3 linked regions of the Homo sapiens genome follow. The protein of the gene in region 2 interacts with the protein of the main gene of each other region in a pairwise test. Each region holds a gene or a part of one and is shown on either strand. Other genes may lie near its edges.

Region 1 (7,498 bases), on a different chromosome or scaffold from region 2:
CGGGAGAGCCTCGGGGAAGCCGGAGGCCCCCAGCGTGGCACCACCCGCCCTGGGCTGTGCCCCTCGGAGCAGCTTACCAGAACATGTCCTGAGATGGATGCCGCGTTCGCCACAGACGTGGTGAAGACATTGTCTGCAGCAGCCCCCACGTTGGCCACTGTCACTGTGGTCACCTCTGCAACAGAAGGAGCCTCATTTAACAAGCAACAAAAGCCAGAATGGACAAAGCGAACAGCCTCGCTCAGGTGCTTCAAACAAAGTGACTCCCCCTCAGGTGTGTGCCCTTGTAACCAGGAAGATCTTAACACTTCCATGAACACGCTCGACCTACATTTCTATTCCATTGTCTAAGTCATTCGGCTCTTCCAGGAAAAAGAGAGGAAATCTATTCTTCCCCAGTAAAGCCTTTTACGTGCAGTAAAAAATGCATACAACAAACCCGCCACCCCAGCCAGCCCCAGCTCTATCAAACCACCACGGGGCTTCTATCTCCTTCTGCGGCACAGCTGTGGGTTCTGCTGGTCAGGTGTGCCCTATGCCTACGAGGAGCTCTCGGCCTCCCCGCAGGTGAGGACACCTCCTGGACCCACTCTTGTAGCTCCATTCCTGCCTCTCCTCCACCGCAGGGGTCAGGCCACCATCGTCAGGTGACCTCGGCCCCATGCTCACAGCCATTGCCCTTGGTCTCTGACCCCTTCCTCCTAAAAAGTACATCTAACCTGCCTATGTCCCTTGGTGCCACCCCACCGCACCCCCTACAACATGGAACTCAGCCCCCTGGCATGCAGACAGGCCCTTCAGCAGCATCTGCACACAGGGCAGTTACCACAGAGGTCAGCTGCACCCCACCTCCTGCCCCTGTCATCCCAGATAGGTCCTGCAGCTCCAGCCTCTACATGCTGGAGTGTTTCTAGAGAAACACTTTCTGCCGCCAACACCCCCACACCCTCCTCTCTGCCTCTGCAAAGTCTTCCTGTGATGCTCCTAGGCCAAGCAAGTGGCTCTTCTGTCACCCAGAGTTCTAGAATGTCCTGTGTCCAGGGCAATCTCTGGCACACAGCAGATGCTTAAAAGATACTGGTTGAATGAGTCCTGACCATACCATTAACCCAGCACTCACCAAACTGCCCTAAAAATGCCTGTTTGCAGCCGGGCGCGGTGGCTCACGCCTGTAATCCCAGCACTGTGGGATGCCAAGGCGGGCGGATCACCTGAGGTCAGGAGTTCGAGACCAGCCTGACCAACATAGAGAAACCCCATCTCTACTAAAAATACAAAATTAGCCGGGCGTGGTGGCACATGCCTGTAATCCCAGCTACTCGGGAGGCTGAGGCAGGAGAATCACTTGAACCCGGGAGGCGGGAGGTTGCGGTGAGCTGAGATCACACCATTGCACTCCAGCCTGGGCAACAAGAGCGAAACTCCGTCTCAAAAAAAAAAAAAGGCATGTTTGCTGTCTGTCTCCACGACCAGACCACACCAGGTGCACGGTTCCCTCATCCTCGCCTCTCAGCACCACAAGCCCCGGCATGCGGCGCGCGGCCACAGTGAGTGCTCAACGCCAGGCCCATGGCAGCCCTGGGAGCAGCCGCCCAAAGCCTCCTCAGGCGGCAGCGTGTCCTGCTGAGTTACTTAAACCTGGAAACCACTTGACGTCAGCTGTTCGTAATTTTTAAAAAGTATTAAAGTGCTTTTACCACATCAAAACACAACTACCATATTTTTCAGAAGAAAACACACGTCAGCACATTTCTCTGACATCATGATGAACAGCATCATTTTTCTTTTATGCATTCAGAAAAATACGTGCAAAAATGACAAAAACCTGAAATCAACCTCATGGCTCCAAATCCCAACGTCAAACCAGAGTTTAGCGACGGACGCCAACCCCTGAGAGTCACAAAGCCTTCCCTCACTTTTTTTTCTTAACCAACCAAACAAGCAGCAGTGACCCCTTTGCCTTCGAGGGCCACTCAGCTGACCAAGGGCAGCCCAGACGCTGCTGGCCCCCACCCAGCCCCCAGGCCGAACAAGCACCCAGAGCACACGCAATGCCCTGACATACCCAGCACACCAGGACTGGGATCCAGTTCCTCAACCCGCAAAGCTCCGTAGGGGAAAAGTGCCTCACAACGCAACAAGAAGCTCCTCCCAAGGGTCTCAACACTGAGCTGTGAGTCCCTGGGGGACACTCGGGAACTCCAATGGGGAAGAATACAGTGCGTTAGGAAGCCAGTGGGTGGGGAAGTCTATGCCCCACGGACACAAGGGCGGGACACAGGAGGTGGGTGGACGGCACCAGCCCCGTAGGGCATCTGTGAGCTCTGCCACGGGCTCCCAGTGTTTTGGAGCCTGAGAAGGAGACTGACCTGTGTGGCAAGAAACTATAAGCAGCTTATATAAAAATGTGGACTGGAAAGCCACAGCAGCCTCCCCAAAGGAAGCCCGACAGGAAGCGGGGCAGGAGGAGCAGGTCCTTAGGGAAAAAGGCAAGAGGAAGAGGGAGGACTGGGAGGGGAGCCTGCACAGGTGGCTCCGCAGCCCCCCTGGGCCACCACACAGCCACGCTGACCTCTGGCATCATGGCCTCCAGCAGGCTGCCCACCCCTGGCTCCCCAGCGCTCAGGTCATGCCTGAACTGGCCCTCAGGAAGTGGGGGGTTCCTGGTGACCACAGGTGCCCACCCACCCCAGGGCTTCTCCAGGACAGGTGGGGGGAGCCAGGATGGACGAAGGCAGGGCAGGGGCAGAGCTGCACAGGGGGGACCAGTAGGAGGCGGGGCTGCCACAAAGAAAAGGGGGGCAGGGGGCAGGTGTGTGCAGGGCAGGGCCAGGTCAGGTGAGGCTAGGCAGGTCACCAGGGGCAGGTGTGCGGGGCAGGTGTTTGGGGTAGGTGGGGCAGGCTGGTCACCTGGGGCAGGTATGTGGGGCAGGTGTGCGGGGCAGGTAGGGCAGGCCGATCACGTGGGGCAGGTGGGGAAGGCTGGAAACGTCGAGCAGGTGTGCGAGGCAGGTATTTGTGGCAGGTGGGGCAGGCTGGTCACCTGGAGCAGGTACGTGGGGAAAGTGTGAGGGGCGGGTGGGGCAGGTGTGAGAGGCAGATGTGAGGGGTGAGCTAGTCACGTGGGGCAGGTGTGCAGGGCGGGTGGGGCGGGCGGGTCACGTGGAGCAGGTGTGAGGGGCAGGTGTGCAGGGCGGGTGGAGCGGGCTGGTCACGTGGAGCAGGTGTGAGGGACAGGTGTGGCGGGCTGGTCACCTGGGACAGTTGTGCGGGGCAGGCGCGCGGGGTAGGCGCGCGGGAACCGGACGAGGCGAGAGGCCGGCGGGCGCACTTGCCTGCGAAGGCTGCGGCAGCGGCGGCCTCGTCGGGGCCGGGCAGGGCCTCGGCGCCCATGTCCATGTGCCCGGGCTCCGCCGCCATCACCGCCACTGCCGTGACCCGCGGCGTCTCCCGCTCCGCCTCCGAGTCTGCGTCCTCCTCCGAGTCCTCGTCCCTGCTCAGCACCGGCTCCTCCGCCTCGCCTCCTGCCGCGGCCGCGGCCGCCGCCGCCACAGCGGCCGCGGCCGCCACCGCCGCCGCCTCAGCCAGGCCCAGCTGCTTTGCCGCCGAGTCCGAGTCCTCCATCCGGACTCCGCCGAGCCTTCCCGAAGGCGCCGTCCGGGACCGCCCGAAGCGCCGGTCGCGGAGCCCGAAGCGGGGCCCGAAGAGGACGCCCGAGCTGGGCCGAGGCCGCCCGAAGCCGCCGCCCGAATAGGGACCGAAAAGGCAGCCAGCCGCCGAGCAGAGCCGAGCCGAGTCCGCCCGCGGAGCGGAGCCGAGGCGAACAGAGGCTGCCCGAGTAGGAGCCGAACCTGCACGAAGCCGCCGAGCCGAGACCGAGTCCTGAACCGAGGAGGGTCGAAGTTCCCCGAAGTGGGAAGCCGAATCAGTCCGAATAGGTCCGAGTCCTCACGAGGGCTTCCGAGAGACTCGGCCCCTGCTCTCCTCACTGTCCTGACAGGCTGAGGCGGCTGTCGTCCCCGGCCGACAGGGCTGGACGGCTCTAGGCAGATTCTCGCCGGCGGCCGGCGCAATTCTGCCTCTCAGAGAGAGCTTAGTGCCGCGGGTTTCGCCCGTTCCCGCCGCCGGCGGAAGCCGAGTCAGCCCGAGGCCGAGCCGAGACGAGCCGAATGTCCCCGAGGCCGAATGCTCCCGAACGTCGGTTCTCCACCTCTTCCCTTCCGAAAGTGCCCGAGCGGTGCCGGACGGACTAATCGGGCCTCGGCCGTGGCTCGGACGTCCGCTCCCGAAACGCGGCGCGGTCGGGCCCCTTCGTCAGGAGACGCGAAAATGGCCGAAGGAGCGCGAGCGCGCGGGCCGAGAGGCTGCCGGGATCGCGACGGACCGGCGGGCGGGGCGGGTAAGATGGCGGCCCCGCGGCGAGGTGAGCTCGGGCGGGGTGGGGGCTTCCGGGCTTGCAGCGGCGGGCGCGGCGTTTCCCTGTGGTGACAATCCGGTTTCCGCTTTCGGTGCGCTCACGGGGCCGTGCCACCGTCTCTACGTGAGCGAGACAGCTCCGTCACCCCATCGAGAAGCGCGGCCTGGCCTGGCCTGGGTGGCGGGCGTCCTGCACCCCGAAGAGCTCCCCCGCGCGCGGGCGCCTGGCCCCGGGCAGGGTGGGTGCGGAGCGGCTCTGGGGGCCCCAGTCCCCGGCAGCTCTTGTCCCGCGCGTGGTTTTTGTGAAGACACGTGGGCGGGATGGGCGCAGGGTTTCGGTAGCCTTGGAACTCTCGCCAAAGAAAATCGCGGGCGCCGGTGCCTCAGCCGTCCTGCCTGAGAGACTCGCCTCCGAGAGGAGGAAGGGACAGACCAAAGCAGTAAATCGGCCATCCTGCAGAGGAGCCGCCTTCTGCTGTCTGTGGGTACAGCCAGAACTCCCATACGCGGGCGCTGAAGTGCCAAACCTTCGTGCGTGTTCTCTAGTAATTAGGTGCATTGTTTTGAAGGAATAAAGAATGGCTACTCCATAGGCAGGACAGCCTCTAGTAACCAGGTTTGTTTTGTGTATTTTCATTTGGTTAAAAATTAAGTTTAGGTTGGGCGCAGTGGCTCAGGCCTGTAAGCCTGACAGTTTGGGAAGCCGAGGCTGCAGGATCATTTGAGGCCAGCCTGGGCAACATAGCAAGACCCCCTCTATAAAAAAAAAACTGTAAACATCAGCCAGGCGGTGGCGCACCCCTGTGGGCCAAGCTATTCTGGAGGCTGAGGCTGGCGGATCACTTGAGCCCAGGAGGTCGAGGTTGCAGTGAGCCGTGATGGCGCCACTGCACTCCAGCCTGGGCGACAGAGCGAGACCCCCTTCTACAAAAAAAAAATTAAAAATTACCCCGGGGAAGGCCAGGCGCAGTAGCTCACGCCTGTAATCCCAGCACTTTGGGAGGCCAAAGCGGGCGGATCACCTGAGGTCGAGGGTTCAAGACCAGCCTGACCAACATGGAGAAACCCCGTCTCTACTAAAAATACAAAATTAGCCTGGCGTGATGGTGCATGCCTGTAATCCCAGCTACTTGAGAGTCTGAGGCAGGAGAATTGCTCGAACCCGGTGGTGGTGGTGGGGGGGGTGGGGTGCGGAGGTTGCAGTTGGCCAAGATCGCACCATTGCACTGCAGCCTGGGCAACAAGAGCGAAATTCTGTCTCAAAAAAAAAAAAAATTACCTCAGGGAGCCTGTGGTCCCAGCTACGTGGGAGGCTGAGGCTGGCGGATCACTGGAGCCCAGGAGGTTGAGACTGCAGTGAGCTGTGATCAGGCCACTGCACTCCAGCCTGGGCAACAGAGCAAAACCCTGTCTCTAAAAAAACTAAGTGTATACCAAAACAAGATTTCTTAACACATCTTGTCCATTACATCAGGGAAAACACTTGTTCTCTTTCACTTCCATGTTTAACTTCTGCCTGACACAGCTATTCGTAGCCACATTGTGATTATAGTAAGTCACTGACAAAAAATGTTGTCCTGAAAGCCAAGGCTACGTTCGGTCAGAATGAGCTCCTGCAGGTCTGGAATTGTTAGAACAGCGTATCTGGTTATAGCCGCCCTTCATATTAATTATTAAAATGTTACATCACTTAAGGCTTTTATACAGTTTTTCCCCCAAGCCCCATAACTTCAATCTATAACAGTGAGCAACTAGCAGACACATTGGAAGTGTTTAAGAAGCCAGCCTTTAAGAAAAGGAACAGAAGGGACAAAAACCCCAATTAATGCGAAATCATCACAGATAATGACAGGTATTTAGGTGGCCTGGTTTAGCTAAGGCCTGGAAAAGAACAGATCGGGTTTAAAGAGTGGCCTGCCGGGAACGCGATGCGGCGTGGTCTGCCGTGCACTTGGCTTCCTGCTTCCATCCTGTGGTGCCTCTTCCAGGAGCCCAGTTCTGAGTCTCTGATGCCGATGTCCTGTATTTACTGGCTTAAAACTCTTGCCTGTGTGAGATTCCACAAACTCTGGCACAGAAGGCCCCAGATCTGCCCAAGAAGCTGTGGGATCAGCCACAAAATCTCACCAACGCCAGGTTTCTGTCCTGCCCTCCCTGGCGCTGAAGGGGAAATAGAACAGAGGCTGTGTTCAGGTTGCTGTCCTGCCTGCCGCCCAGCGGTGCAGCTTGAGCCTCCTTTTATGAGAGGTTTCCACCCAATTCTAGATGTGTATTGAGGTATCTACACATGGAGGGACGTGCACATATCACACGTGCAACTGGCCTGAGCCCTTTTCAGACAATTAGTCCGCTCCAGGTCAGCGTGGATCCAGGGTGAGTCAGAGGCGTCTTCAGATGCAAAACCTCAGAATCAAAAAGGAGGAAAGAGACTCCACTCACTCCTCGGGCTTCCTGTCATCTCTCAGGTGGGGGTGGGAGAAGGCCCAAGAGGTTGCATGATAAAAAGACTGGACAGCTGCATTGCTGGTTTGGAAAATCCTTATTTTTGGAGGGATATTTGGGGATAAAATTTCAGAGGAAAGCAAATGTCTCATCAATCATGAAAAAAGATTTGTTACAACCTAAGTCAGAAAAGGTTTTCATCTAGTCATATATGTGTGGCAAATACGGAGAAGCCACAGACGGTGAGCCACAGACAATGAGAGCAGCTGTTGGGGTGGGCTCCAGGGTGCTGCTTTCCCTGAGGGCCAGCTGGGTCTGGCCCAGGTTCACTTCCCACCCCGGTGCCCCCGGTACTCGCTGTCTCCAGCCTCAGGTTCTGAAAGGCAGAGACTCCTAGCCTCATTGAAGGATGGTTAGAGAGGCACGGGAGCTATCTAGTGGCAGGCCCACGGTATATGTTTGCTGCTTTCTACAAATACGAGATCAAAGGAAAATAAAGCAGGGGTGGTTCCTGTCAGTGTGGAGCGAGACCCGGGAAAGCATCCTGGTGGCTGTCAGGCCTTGCTCACGGCCCCTTTCTCTTTCAGGGAGAGGATCCTCCACAGTGGTATCCTGCTGCGTGCCCCTCCAGGACAGCACC
Region 2 (7,228 bases):
TTCTGTGATGCTAAGATTCCATAACTGTGAACTCCATGAATCTAGAATTTCATGATTTTTTAAAATTGTGTTTAATGAATTTTGTTGGTAATAGTAGTCAGCACTCTCTTGGCCTCAGTTTTGTGTTTGTTTTCTAGAAGTTGCAAGTCTCAGCTCCAGGCTCTCTTCTCTGGGCATGCCGGTGCAGAGGAAGGTCATTTCCACCTCTCCCGAGGCTCAGGGGTTGGGATAGTACCCAGGGAAGCCCAGTCCTAGGGCCCAACACTCAGTCTACTCCCTCTCTACTGAAAACTCTTACTTGGGCTTCAGTACCTGAGGGTAGCAGGAAAAGCAGTCTCCTTTGCAGTCCTTCCACCCAGCTTCCTGTCCTCCTTGCACTGCCCCATGGTCCAGGGAGAGAAAGTTTTGTGGGAGACTGCCCTGGCTGAATGGGTAGGTGTGGGAAGAAGGGTTAAGCACTGGGCAGAGAGCCAGTGGAGGAACCAGGGGACATTCCCTAGGGAGCCCTGCAGCCTTCCCCAGAGGTGAGGAAGGAACAGAGGCCGGAAGTGGGGGTGTGGGTGAGGGCACTGGTAAGGGTGGGGTGACCGGTATTGCATTGTGGGGTTGGAGCTGGGCTTCCGGCCATTGACCTATTAGTGACAAGCGACCTCCAGCCTGGCGCCCCAGGGGCTGTCTGTTCGTGCCCTTACCCACTGACTCTGTGTTCCTGTGCCTGAGTCAGACTCCCAGGAAAATCTCGGGGGCAGGAGTTGGGGTCTGGGGAACCTATTTCTCTAGAGCGGAGCCACAGAGGCGAAGAGAGGGGCCAGGACACTCCAAGGATCAGATCAGGGCTTGGGGCAGAACCAAGACTGAAGCTCCGGGCTCCTGCCTCTAGCCCAGAGCTGTTCTCTTCACGGTCCAAAGGGTCCCAGAATTATAAAGTAATACTCCCCCAACTAGCCAGGTGGTGAAACTCAGGGCTAGAGGAAGAGCCCGTGCTAGGCTGCCTCCCAGGAGCAGCCTGGACCTTCTTCCAGTCCTGCAGCACATGGCTGAAGCTGCCAAACCCGATTTTCCAGTGGCTGCCTGAGGCTGGCTGGAGCGGGAAGCCCTCCTCCTGGCATGAACCCTCAGGCCATCATCCTCCTCCCCCTCACCTCCCGATTCGGTGGCTTGGCCTGGCCTGCTCCTCCTGCACCTGTGCCAACTGTCCCAGTGTGCCACCACTTCCTTCTCCACCTGCCTGCCATCTCCCCTGGGCTGCTCCCCAGGCACTGTGAGGTGTGGTCCAGAGCTGTCCATTTCTGAGCCTCGGTTTTCTCATCTATAGATGAGGAATAGTGGCCTGCCTCCCAGGGATTGACTACAGGAAGATTTCAAAGAAAAGTGAGGTGGTAGGGGGCAAGCAGTAGCTCACGTCTGTAATCCCAACATTTTGGGAGGCTGAGGCGGGAGGATCACTTGAGCCCAAGAACTGGAGTGCAGTGGCATGATCTTGGCTGCAACCTCCACTTCCCAGGTTTAAGTAATTCTCGTGCCTCAGCCTCCTGAGTAGCTGGGAGAACCTGTTTCTACAAAAAAAATGTTTTAATTATCTAGGCGTGGTGGCCTGCACCTGTAGTACCAGCTACTTGTGGGACTGAGGTGGGAGGATAGATTGTGCCCAGGAGACTGAGGCTGCAGTGAGCTAAGGTCAGGTCACTGCACTCCAGTATGAGTGACAGAGAGAGACCCTGTCCCTAAAAACTAGGCAGGGGAAAGGGCTGAGCCAGGTGGCTCATGCCTGTAATCCCTGCACTTTGGAAGACTGAGGTAGATGGATCACTTTAGGCCAGGAGTTCAAGACCAGCCTAGCCCACATGGCAAAACCCCATCTCTACTAAAAATACAAAAATTAGCCAGGCATGGTGGCACATGCCTGTAGTCCCAGCTACTAGGGAGGCTGAGGCACGAGAATCACTTGACTCTGGGAGAAGACGGTTGCAGTGAGACAAGATTGCGCCACTGCACTCTATCCTGGGCAACAGAGCCAGGCGCTGTCTCAAAAAAAAAAGAAAAGAAAAAAGAAACAAACAAACAAAGAAAAAGGAGATATGAGTATCATGGGCCACCAATTAGTTGGATGGTGTGTTAGTGCCATGTTGGGAGCACAGCCTAGGGTGTGAGAAGGAAGCACTGCTCTGTGGAATTCTGGAGATATGGTTGTTAGGATGAAGGGTGCAAGGTAAGGGCTGTATTCCCTCTGATTTCCTCAGGTTATCTCACCTATGGGAGAAGGAAGAACAGAGAGAGGCAGAGAACATCATCGCAAACGGAGCCCCTGTTACAAGTACTCAGAGACCTCCTCACGATTTAATGAAGAGCTTGTGTAATCTGTGTAATGTGCCTCTCACTGAGCTATAATTCCTCTGGGAAAGAACTCCCACTGCCTTGCTCACTGCTGTATCTCCAGAATTTAGTACCATCCCTGGCACATAGCAGGCACTGTTGACTGACACAGAGTTGCAGATTGAAAAGCAGAAGCAGAGGCACCTTAAGGGGTGGAGACCATCTAGGTCAGCTCAGCTAACCCAGGCCCTTCCAGCCTGAGAGCCTGGTGTTCTCAGCCACCAGGGAACTCTGGCAGGGTGGGAGAGAGTGGGCTGCACCCGCTCATCCGGGAGCCACCTAAACTGAGGTGGTGGGTGCCCTCTGGCTGCTGCTGCCTCTGGGAGCCTAGATGGGGAGGAGAATTAGGAACCTGAAGGGGGAGGGGCAGTGAAGAAGCCATCATCGCAGATACAGCTAAAAATAGCTGGAAGAGATGATGTCATCTGGTTCCCACAGCTTAGCACCCCCATCATACACACACTCGAGCACAAACACACACTCTCACAGACACAGATACACACAGACACAAGTGTGGGCATGAGTGCATGCACACACACATACTACACACTCATATAGGGGAGGGAGGCTTCTGGGTCCCAGGGCCGCAGGGGCAGGGAAGTCTGGTGAGTGTGTCTGCATGCGTGTATGTCTGTGTGTGCCTGGGTTTGCATGAGTGTGAAGGCATGTGTCTGCATCTGGGTGCTTGTGTGCTTGTGTCTGGGTGCATGCATGTTTCTGTCTGTGTTCATTTAGAGGCATGCGTATGTGTTGTTACATATATCGTGTGGGGATCTATGCATTTGTGTCTGCGTATATCTGCTTATAGTATGTGCTTGCATGCATGTGTGTGGTTGTTGCAGTATGTGTCTATGAGTTCACTTATATTTACATGTCTGCATGTGTTTGTGAACTGTGTCATGTATCTTTATATGTATGGCCCCTCTTGGGCCCTTGAGCATGGCCCAAGCACCTTCTAGCTTTGACTGATGTTCAGCAACCCCCATCCCATAACCTGAGGAGCCCAGCACCGTCTGGGCATGGTGTGTCAGTGAATTCTCTGCCTCAACCCCCCTCAGGGTCCCAGTCTCTGGCAAGAGTTGGGGTAGATAGACATAAGCACAATTCACTTTCCCTTCACAGGCAGCAAAGGACATTAGCCACACTTCCTGAACCCCAGGGGGCCAGGCCACCAAAGGTCTCAGGGTTCACTCCCTTCCCTAGCCCCTTGGGAAGGTAGCCTGGAAATGCAGCCAGATCTCGGACCGGTGCAACACGTATTAGCCCATGCATGATGCAACATATTCGAGACAGAGTCCTACAAAATGTTCCCAGCGACTAAGACACAACCCCACAGAAACCCGGTTACAGCCAGTGACACATGAGCACACACTCAGAAATCCAAATGGAAAATCCCCAGGCCAGAGAGCTTAGCACCCTCCCTACTTTCTGGGCTCAAACTCAGTCTTGCCCCACCCCTAAGCACCCCAGCTCAGCTGCCAGTTCTGGAAAACACTGACCTCAGAGAATGGTTGAAGGGCCGAAGGTAGTATGCCTTTCTCAGAATCTCACCCTTCTCCATGTTCTCCTCCTTTAGGCTGTTCCCCATCCCCCTCCTGACCTTCACTTTTCTTACCAGGGCTGATGTCCTCTCCGGCACACCCATACCCTCACAAACGCTCCTTGACACTCACAGTCAGTCACAGAGGCACATTAAATCACAAAGGCACATTCAGCCACATCTACTGATACTCCTATTCTCCCGGCCTCAGACACACACACCAGCAGCTACACCTACACGCTGACCATCACAGGCACACAGAGGCACATCCACCTCACATCCACCTCATACTTGTGTACTCTCAGGGTTCAGTCTTTCATCCTATCCCTCTCTGATCTGTGCCTCCCAATACCTTCCAAGATGTTTACAGAGACCCTTCTCCCTGTGCAGTTAGGAGTGTAAGGCAAGAGAGCCCCTACTTCATGGGGCAGATCAAGAGCTGAGACCAAAGATGGTCTATGTTGCTGACCTTGTCCTGTCCTCCTGCTGTCTTAAACTATGATCCCTGCTGCGGTCACTGAAGCCTTTCCCTGTAAGTATTCAGCCATAACCCTCCCCTCACGCCCTGCATAGTCAGCTGGTTAACACCTCTGTGTGGAATAAGGCAGTTTGAGCAGAATGACTGTATTTGTTGTTCACCACCCACACGGCCCCTAGGAGATGCAGGTCCAGGGCAAACCAAGCTTCTGGGCTAGCTTCTGGGCACTTCTAGAGGATCAGAAAAATCCCAGGTTGCCTGAGATGTCTGAGAACTGAGGAGAGGAAGGAGAGGGAAGAGTTTGAGGAAGGAAGCAGTTCTGGAAGTTCCCTGCCTCTTGGATTCAGCCCCTCCCCAAACCCTCTGCTTCCAGCCAATCCATCCTCCATTAAGGCTGTCAGCACTTTGGGGTGCCTGCCATCAGGAGTCCCCCATATATGTAGGGGTGCTATTTCACAGAGATCATCCTTTGGCGTGCCTAAACAGAACCAGGTAGGGAAATCTTCACTGGCTCTGGTTTTTTTTTTTTTTTCTTGAGACAGAGTCTAGCTCTGTCACCCAGGCTGGAGTGCAGTGGCGCGATCTTGGCTCACTGCAACCTCTGCCTCCCGGGTTCAAGCAATTCTCCTGCCTCAGCCTCCCAAGTAGCTGGGACTAAAGGCGTGTGCCACCACGCCCGGCTAATTTTTTTTTGTATTTTTAGTAGAGATGGGATTTCACCGTGTTAGCCAGGATGGTCTCGATCTCCTGACCTTGTGATCTGCCCGCCTTGGCCTCCCAAAGTGCCGGGATTACAGGCATGAGCCACCGCACCCAGCCTAGTGGCTCTGTTTTTTAAAACCCCACCCTGGCTCACAGGCCCCCTGGCTAACCTTGAGGTGGGAAGATCCACACTATGGTGGTGTCAGTGTGGGTGTTGTTGATACCCATGGCCCTGGTGGCAGGATTGATGGCTGCACTGCTGGCAGTTCGACCTCGGAGACCCTGTTGATATCTTCTGCGGCTACACTTGAACATCCTGGGAAATCGGGGCCTGGGCCAGCCCATACCTGGCCTGCGGTAGGGGGAACGCATGCCCTGGGGCCGAGGGCCACGGACAAGCCGAGATGGCCCCATGGGCACAGGGAGCTTCTGCAGTGTGCCTGGGGGGTGCTGTTGGCCAGGGTAGCTGAGGCCTCTATGACATACAAAGTCTGCATAAGGGCAGGGCCCTTTATTACAAGTCGTGGGCCCTGGCCCCTCCTCATGGGTCAGGCTCCTTCACAATCTTCTTTATTGGGTCTGGCCTAAAAGCCAGCCCAAGAGCCAGACAGCCTCAGTTTGGCCCCTTGGGAAAAGAGGCCCTAGAGGCGGAACTCACTTCCTCACTTTCTCACTTATCCATATAGTAACAATATTAACAATGTTTTTTGAGCACTTACTACGTGCCAGACACTGTGCTGAGCACTTTACCAACGTTATCTCATTTAATCTCAGCTACTTTACAAGGATATGCCATCATTATACCTATTTATATACAGTCAATTCTCATTATTCCCAGTAATGTTCTATAAAGTCGCCACAAACACTAAATACTGAACAAAGGGTAAATGCAAGGTTAGGTTCCTGAAACCCTCTGGTCACAATATTTTTGTCAACTGATCTATACATATAACCTGATTTTATGTGTGGAGACACCTTATTTAATATATATTGTTGGCCAGGCATGGTGGCTCAAGCCTGTAATCCCAGCACTTTGGGAGGCCGAGGTGGGCAGATCACCTGAGGTCAGGAGTTCAAGACTAGCCTGGTTAACATGGCAAAACCCCATCTCTACTAAAAATACAAAAATTAGCTGGGTGTGGTGGTGGGTGCCTGTAGTCCCAGCTACTCAGGAGGCTGAGACAGGAGAATAGCTTGAACCCAGGAGGTGGAGATTGCAGTGAGCCCAGATTGCACCATTGCACTCCAGCCTGGGCAACAAGAGTGAAACTCTGTCTCAAAAAAAAAAAAAATATATCTATCTATCTATCTATCTATCTATCTAACTATCTATCTATATTTGAGTCATTGACATTGAACTCACAGCCAACAGCATTATAACTTGTGCCTGAATGAAACTTATCTAAAGCACATATTTCCCCTATAAGGCACATCACAGCCTTCTTGCACTTAGAAAGACTAGAGAGCACTTCAGCACTACAACTGGGGACCATTTTAGACAGTAAAATCACCAGCAAAAAACACCAAAAAATGTGAGAATATGCGTCACTAAATAGACCACCAAAAAGCACATTTGTTTACTCTATGAAAACTGAAATAAGAAGACAGAGAGTCCTCTTGCTCAACAGACCTCAGCTGGAAATACGTGTGTTGGACGGCTGAAATTTTTTGCCTTTCTGCTCATGTCCATGAATGACTGCAAAAGTACCACAAGTACTGGTTTGGGAATTACAAATAAATTTCAGTAAGCAGGCAAATTCACAGGTATGGAATCTGTGAATAAGGAGGATCCACTGTATAAGGAAACTGGGGCTCAGTGAGGTGAAGTCACACAATTAGAGGCAGGCAGGAAGCAAATCCATGATGATCAAGATCCAAAACCCAGAGCACTTAACTCTCATTATTCTGCACTCATTCACTCAGGAAATGTTCACTGACAACTTCTTATGTGCCAAGCACCAGGGCCATAGATGAATGTAATCTGGTCCCAATTCTTCCTGAGAATGAAACAGAAAGGTTCCAGGTGCGGTGGCTCACGCCTGTAATCCCAGCACTTTGGGAGCCCGAGGTGGGTGGATGACTTGAGGTCAGGAGCTCGAGAGCAGCCTGGTCAACATGGTGAAACCCTGTCTCTA
Region 3 (6,910 bases), about 120 Mb from region 2:
ACTGTGTAATCTTACTTTTTGCAAAACACATCCCTTCATGCTTTTTTATATTACTATATAAAAAGTCTCTCAATATTCTATTTACCCCTACTGAATGGAAGAAAATATATTTGCAAATCATATCTGACAAAGGTCTAGTACCTAGAATTTATAAAGAACTCTTCTAACTCAACAACAAAAAGACAAACAACTGAATCAAAGAGGGGCAAAGGACTTGAATAGGCATTTCTCCAAAGAAGTTATATGATTGGCCAACAAATACATGAGAAGATGCTCAACATCAGTCATTAGAGAAGTACATCAAAACCACAATGAGATACCACTTCACACCCACCAGGATGGCTACTATAAAAAGGAAAATAAGTGTTGGCAAGGATGTGGACAAATTGGAACCTTTGTACATTACTTATGAGAATGTGAAATCATGCAGCCTGTGGAAAACAGTTTGGCAGTTTCTTAGATAAACACAGAATTACCAAATGACACAACAATTCTACTCCTAGGTATATACCCCAAAGAAATAAAAATAAATATTCAAATACACACTTGCATACAAATGTTCATAGCAGCACTATTCACAATAGACAAAAGTAAAAATAATCCAAATGTTATCAATTGATGGATAAACAAAATGTTGTATATACACATATTACTTAGCCATAAAAAGGAACGAAGTACTGATACATGCTACAATGTGGATGAATCTTTAAAACATTAAACTAAGTGAAAGAAGCTAGACACAAAAGGTCACAAATTGTATGTAACCTCCAGAATAGACAAATCCATAGGCAGAAAGCATATTAGTGTTTGCCAGGGACTAAGGGGAGGAGGGAACAGGGAGTGACTGCTTAATGGGTATCAGTTTCCTGTAGGGTGGTGAAAATGTCTTGGAATTAGACAGAAGTGATGGTTTCACAATATTATGAATGTAGTAATGCCACTGGGTTGTACACTTAATTAATGGTTAATTTTATGTTATGTGAATATTGCCTCGATTTAAAAAATATATTCTATTTACCTTTGTGTTAGATTCCTATTGCTGCACAACAAATGAACAAAAATTTAGCGGCTTTAAAATATTACCACATCAGCTTAGCTCACAGTTCTGTAGATCCAGGTGGGCTTGAGTGGATTCTCTGCTTACGGTTTCGCAGACCAAAATTAAGATGGTGACCCGGCTGGGCTCTTCTCGGAAGAATCCCACTTCCAAGCTCATTTAGGTTTTTAGCAGAATTCAGTTCCTTATGATTCTGGGACTGATATCCTGATTCTCTGCTGGCTGTCAGCCAGGAGCCAGTTTCAGTTGCTATAGGATGCCCACATTTCTTGGTATGTAGCCCCCTCCAACAGCAGCACGTCAAATTCTTCTCATCCTTCAAATCTCTCTGACTTCCTCTTCTGCTCTTAGCAGACGGAAAATCTCTGCTTTTAAAGGGCTGTTGTGATTAGATTGGGCCCACCTGGAAAATCTCACATCTGTCATAAAACGTAACATAATAACAGGAGTATTGCCTCATCAAATTCATAGGTTTCACCTCACACTCAAATGGGTGGGGGTTATACAAGGGCAAGCGTCACTGGGGATCATTCTTAGAATTCTGCCTATCGCAATGACCTCTTAGACAAAAATAATAAGAAAACATCTACCCAATTCAAGGACAATTACTGTTTATACCCAACCTCATTGCCTATGTGATTTATACCAAGGAAAAGTTACAGAAGCAGTGATTTACAGATTAACGTGGTTCAGGTACCCAAGCCTCAGGGAAGGGATGGAAAGCTGTTTTTGTTATTGTTGTTTTGTTTTTTGAGACGAGTACTCGCGAGTCTCGCTCTCCGCTCACTGCAACCTCCGCCTCCTGGGTTCAAGTGGCTCTCCTGCCTCTGCCTCCCAAGTAGCTGGGACTACAGGCGTGCATGCCACTATGCCCGGCTAATTTTTGCATTTTTAGTAGAGACGTGTTTTCGCCATGTTGGCCTGGCTGGTCTGAGACTCCTGACCTCAAGTGATCCGCCCGTCTCGGCCTCCCAAAGTGCTGGGATTACAGGAGTGAGCCACCGTGACCAGCCAGAAAGCTATTTTTAATAAGTAGGCTTCTCTTTCCGAGGCCTCTCTGGCTTGCTTTCTCTTTCTTTCTTCTCTTCTACTAAAGCACTGAATGTAAATACAAAGCGATTGTCAAGAAGACCACCTGTTTTCTCTCTGTAGTCCTGATAAGAAGGGTTGGAGTTTAGGGGACTAGACAATTGAATAATATCGATTAGCAGTCCTCAAACATTTTGGTCTTAGGACCCTTGTTAGAGGTGCCCCAAAAATCTGTTGGGTTTTGTGGGTTATACTTATTGAAAATTGCCATATGGTAATAAATTAAACCTGGAAAGTCTTACAAACACAAGAATATACAAGCACGTATTCTCTCATCCTATAAAGCGATGATGTCATCAGACATTATATAGCCTCTGGAGTGGAAAAGGAAATAAAGACTTAGCATGGTTATGAAAATAGATTTGAGCTCGTGGAACCTCTGAAAGGGTCCCAAGGACCCCCAGGGCTTCCTCGACCACACTTTGAGACTCATTGAGATATGTAAATACTGCCAGTTGTATTTCTTCACAGATTAATCAACTCACAGATTTGGGTGCATTCATTTGTGCAGTCTTAGAAACAAATCTTTCCCTTTACCAGTATCTTATTCCATCTGGTAGACTCATTTCTGCTGCTGATGCTTGAAAAAAGTGTCATTTGCTACCACAGGAGGAAAACGGTGCTAGATGGATCATAACATACAGAAAAGCAAGATAGTTCCAAAATGTTTCCAAGAGCTTCTGGCAGGATCTGTCATTCTACAAATACTGCACAGGAAAAATTGCTTTAAATGCTGCATCTTTGCAGTAGAAAGATTAGGATTGAGCCAGGCTGTGAGTCAGGCAGAAAAAGGCACACAGAGGGGGATGAAAGAAAGCACTGGAGAGTCTTGTCATGCTTTGCCCTTGAAAACTATGCCAAGACCTCTTTTGTGTTTTTAAATGAAGAAATCCATCATGTTTTGTGATTGCTGTAATGACTCAGGATCTTCCACCTTCCTTTTAACTATAAACCGTAGCGTAGTTAGGTGTTTGTTTTCTTTGTATCATGCTTGCAAAAAGTGACGAAATAAAGTTAAAACCCTTTAACTGGGACTCCATTACGGTTCTGCTGTTCAGTGACCAGCTTGTTCATTATTCTCACAATATTATCTACTTTCTTCATTTCAGTCTGTCTCTTAGATCCTGGGCTTCTGATGTCTTTCCATGGCGGATGAATACAATTTAAAACACGAAAGCTGCTGGAGGAAAGGTTTAACGTTCCCCCTCCCCAAGGTGAAATCTTTGCCTGGCCTCAGTCACTAAGTCTCTCAGGAGCGGAAACTGAATGGACATTCCGGAGACGGTGAATAAGAATGATAAACGGTGGTTGGGGAGAACAGCGCGTTTCTTCCAGCGGAGGACTAGGCCCACAGGACGCATTCCCAACAGATGAGCGGAGCCGACAGCAAGTGTGCCACGAACGCCAGCTGGCCGCCTCACTAGAGAGAGCTCCGCCGCAAGCCGCCGCTTTTGGAGTGGAGTTCCACATGTCCTCCGCGCTTGAGCCCTGGGACGTCAGAGGCCTGGCGTGCTGCCACCGCCCCAGTTCACGTCGTGTGACCCACGACCAATGGAAGAGCAGGCAAGTATTCCCGGCGTCCGCTGTGATTGGTTCCCGGAGTGGAGGCGGTGGCAGAGGGTGGGCCTTAGGACGGGTCTCCCTTAAACTGGGCGATCAGGCAGCGACCCTAGAGGCGTCTGTAGGGTAAAGCTGGGGGTTCTGTAGCCGGAGGCGGCGGCGAGTCCAGAACGTCCTGGCCTTACAGGGAGAAGGCGTCACTCGCGGTTACAAGTGCCTGACCCTCACTCCAGTTGGCGGAGGAGGAGAAGGAAGGGGCCGGGCCGGGTCCCCTCCCCTCGCGCCCCGGATGGATGTGCCCGGCCCGGTGTCTCGGCGGGCGGCGGCGGCGGCGGCCACTGTGCTCCTGCGGACCGCTCGGGTCCGTCGCGAATGCTGGTTCTTGCCGACCGCGCTGCTCTGCGCCTACGGCTTCTTCGCCAGCCTCAGGCCGTCCGAGCCCTTCCTGACCCCGTACCTGCTGGGGCCGGACAAGAACCTGACCGAGAGGGAGGTACGCGCGGCGGACGCGGGGCGCGGGAAGGGCGGGCGACCGGCCTGCGGGTGGGCAGCGGAGGAAGAGAGGACCGAGAAAAGCGCTCGAGCCATTCTCGGCAGAGATTTCTGATTTTGCCAGTTGGAGGTCGGCTTCGTGCTCTTCTTTGTGTTCATGATTTTCTGTTTTCTTCGGCTCTGTAGGACGAGTCTCCTGCGAAGGGCTCAGAACACGCGTCCAGAGGCCCCGTGCCTTGTGCGTCAGGCAGTATGCTGATCGTGTTGTAATGTGGCTTAGCGTGACTGCCCAGACTGGTCCAGCAGTTCCTGCTGGGGGCGAGGGGGCAATATTTTGACAAAGAAGTGAAAACAGCAAAGTGTACTTTGGACACGGCTTAGTAAATATTCATTGACTGAAAGTAGGCAACCACTGCTTTTCTGAAAGGATCTTCCCTCTACCTCCTTCACCTGCTTCCTGTCCATACCTTACTTTGTTTGCATTTGGCAGAATGGGTGGGCTTAATCAAGTAAGGACAGGACAGAAGTACAGAACATCTTAATTTGTCTTGATTTTTAATTGGGTGAGGTTGTGTCCAAGGATATCCTGCCCCTCTCTACCTTAAGACCAACCTCCAGGGATAAAGGCAGATGGTGAAACATAATTGACTTTTAATTATAGTGTTTCTTGTATTGCGAATTGTTGCTTCACAGATGTTAGTTTTGCTTCTCAGATACAAGGTGATGTCTTTGAAGGCCTTCTGTGATGTTCAGGGTAATTGAGAGCACGTAGTCCATCATCAAGAGTTTCTTGCTGATTGATTTTTTCCCTAGATGAGGGCTTACAAATAAAGTACTTCAGAAGCGCATAGTGTACTTTAGAAATGTGCTGACCTATTTAAGTGCATGGTCAAAACCAGCACTTGATTTTTGCAGAAGAAAGACAATATATAAACTGAGAAAGAAATTAAACCCAAAGTACTTCCACAAAACCGAAATAAAGCCGATTCAACACCCTCTTCCTTGAATACAACAAAGGGTGAAAGCTGAGGTCTCATGTTCTTTTTCCTACTATCAGTCAAGGGGCCACTTGAGAGCTTTTTCTTTTTTCCTACACCTGTTCCTTCCACCCTGCCTCCTTGCCCCAGGTGCTGTAAAATACTCCTCCCATTTAAACCTTACTCTTCTCTATGTGGGTAGTAGTCAGTCACTTCTTTTGAGTAGCCACTCAGTAACCCTGCATAACAGGTCAGAACAAGAGATGGCACTACCGGAATCATTTGCACACTGGCGAGATATAGTTACTCATAGTTTGTTGTTTGCAGTTTGTTTGTTGCAATGCTCCGTCATTTTCAAGGGCACTTGAGAGAGAATTAAGAATCAGTATTGACTTACGTATTGAGGGTTTCACTTGAGAGTCTGACATTTGTTCACTTCTAGCAAGTATCACTGACTTTTTGCCTGGCCTTAAATTACCCTATTGACCTGCCAGTTGTGGGATGGAGTGGCTGGGCCGTTTCTCAGTCTTGTGGATCATTACATAAGCGACCGTAACAGTTATTCATAACCTATTTGAGTTTTAATACTGATTTAAAGCAATAATGTCAAAACAGCCAAATTTCATGACAGAATGATTTTACAAGAAAATTACTGCACTGATATGAGAAAGTATGATTCTGGAGACCCAAAACAACCACTGAATCTGAGGTGTAGCCACTGAGGCAGAATTGATACTGCTGTGAACAGCTGACCATTAAAGTTTCATGTGAACTGCCATGTGATCTGCACAGTTTGTGCGCCTTTCCGGATAGTGAAACACAGGGAGAGAAACATGTTCCCAGTGTTGATATTTGAAAGCTGATCTGTTTTGTCATGTGCTCTGGGTAGAAGGTTGCTGTGTGACGTGCTACCAAGATCATGTGCTCTGTCCTATCAGAAAGCTTTTCAAGGTGAGTGAAGTGTGTTCAGGGGGCACAGAAATAAAGCAGAGTTGCCAGGCGTAGTAACTATTTGCTGATTGTGTAACAAAAAACATAAGTGTACTTCTCTTATTGCAAATTAGTTGAGGAAAAGCGTGGGATTTGAAGAGAAATCTAGTAGTCTGGGGAAGGGGTGTCTTCTCAGAGGACCACCAAATCATGGCTGATTCTCCTCTGCTTACCTTGTGGCAAACCCTACGTTTTTTTGTATAACTAATAATTGAAATAAATAGAACAACTTATTCATTACTTACTGAATGCTTGTTTTTTGCCATGGACAGTTAAATAAAAAAAATTACATGATTTTTAAGCAAAGCTAATGCTAAGTCATATTCAGCGACATTTGTATTAAAGTTTGTATTTGCTCTTAGAAGACTGCAGAAGGGCCAAGTTGGTTTGAATAGAGCTATTGTTAACTAAATCCTAAAACAAAAGGAGAGGAGAAAAAGATTTCTTCTGTCTACTCTCAAAAGTTTTTTTCTTAGATTTCAGGAAAAGCATTAATTTTAAAACAGATACCAGTGTGTAAGTTTTAAGCAGGCTAAAATTTGACTGTATGTTAATAGTTGAAGGCCAGACTTTCAGTAAAACAGATCTTTATCTCTAAAAACTTTTTTATCCTTTCATCATTGTAGCATGTGTTTTGACAGACATTTACTACCTTTCTTAGATTTTTTTAAACATTCCACCTATTTTGCCTGATATTCAGAGCCTCACGAAGTTTGGTTTTTACCTCCTTGACAGCCTTATATCC

Evidence for each region.
Region 1: the proteins of TSPAN1 (region 2) and TMEM80 interact in binary tests that used the Homo sapiens proteins (3 or more experiments, as listed by UniProt).
Region 3: the proteins of TSPAN1 (region 2) and SLC19A2 interact in binary tests that used the Homo sapiens proteins (3 or more experiments, as listed by UniProt).

The regions. Positions count from the first base shown.
Region 1 is NC_000011.10:691,424-698,921, forward strand, and holds the start of TMEM80 (transmembrane protein 80), read left to right. Parts: upstream 1-4,399; 5' UTR 4,400-4,404; coding exon 4,405-4,423; intron 4,424-7,445; coding exon 7,446-7,465; intron 7,466-7,498. Other genes in the region: DEAF1 (deformed epidermal autoregulatory factor 1 homolog), read right to left, coding at 78-175, 3,336-3,624.
Region 2 is NC_000001.11:46,170,965-46,178,192, forward strand, and holds the start of TSPAN1 (tetraspanin-1), read left to right. Parts: upstream 1-4,122; 5' UTR 4,123-4,445; intron 4,446-4,521; exon of another isoform or gene 4,522-4,621; coding exon of another isoform or gene 4,622-4,665; intron 4,666-4,764; exon of another isoform or gene 4,765-4,883; intron 4,884-5,263; coding exon of another isoform or gene 5,264-5,507; exon of another isoform or gene 5,508-5,524; intron 5,525-6,694; exon of another isoform or gene 6,695-6,857; intron 6,858-7,228. Other genes in the region: P3R3URF-PIK3R3 (LOC110117498-PIK3R3 readthrough), read right to left, coding at 5,264-5,507; P3R3URF protein, read right to left, coding at 4,622-4,665, 5,264-5,507. UniProt on the Homo sapiens protein: Structural component of specialized membrane microdomains known as tetraspanin-enriched microdomains (TERMs), which act as platforms for receptor clustering and signaling.
Region 3 is NC_000001.11:169,482,852-169,489,761, reverse strand, and holds the start of SLC19A2 (thiamine transporter 1), read left to right. Parts: upstream 1-3,817; 5' UTR 3,818-3,995; coding exon 3,996-4,199; intron 4,200-6,910. UniProt on the Homo sapiens protein: High-affinity transporter for the intake of thiamine. Mediates H(+)-dependent pyridoxine transport.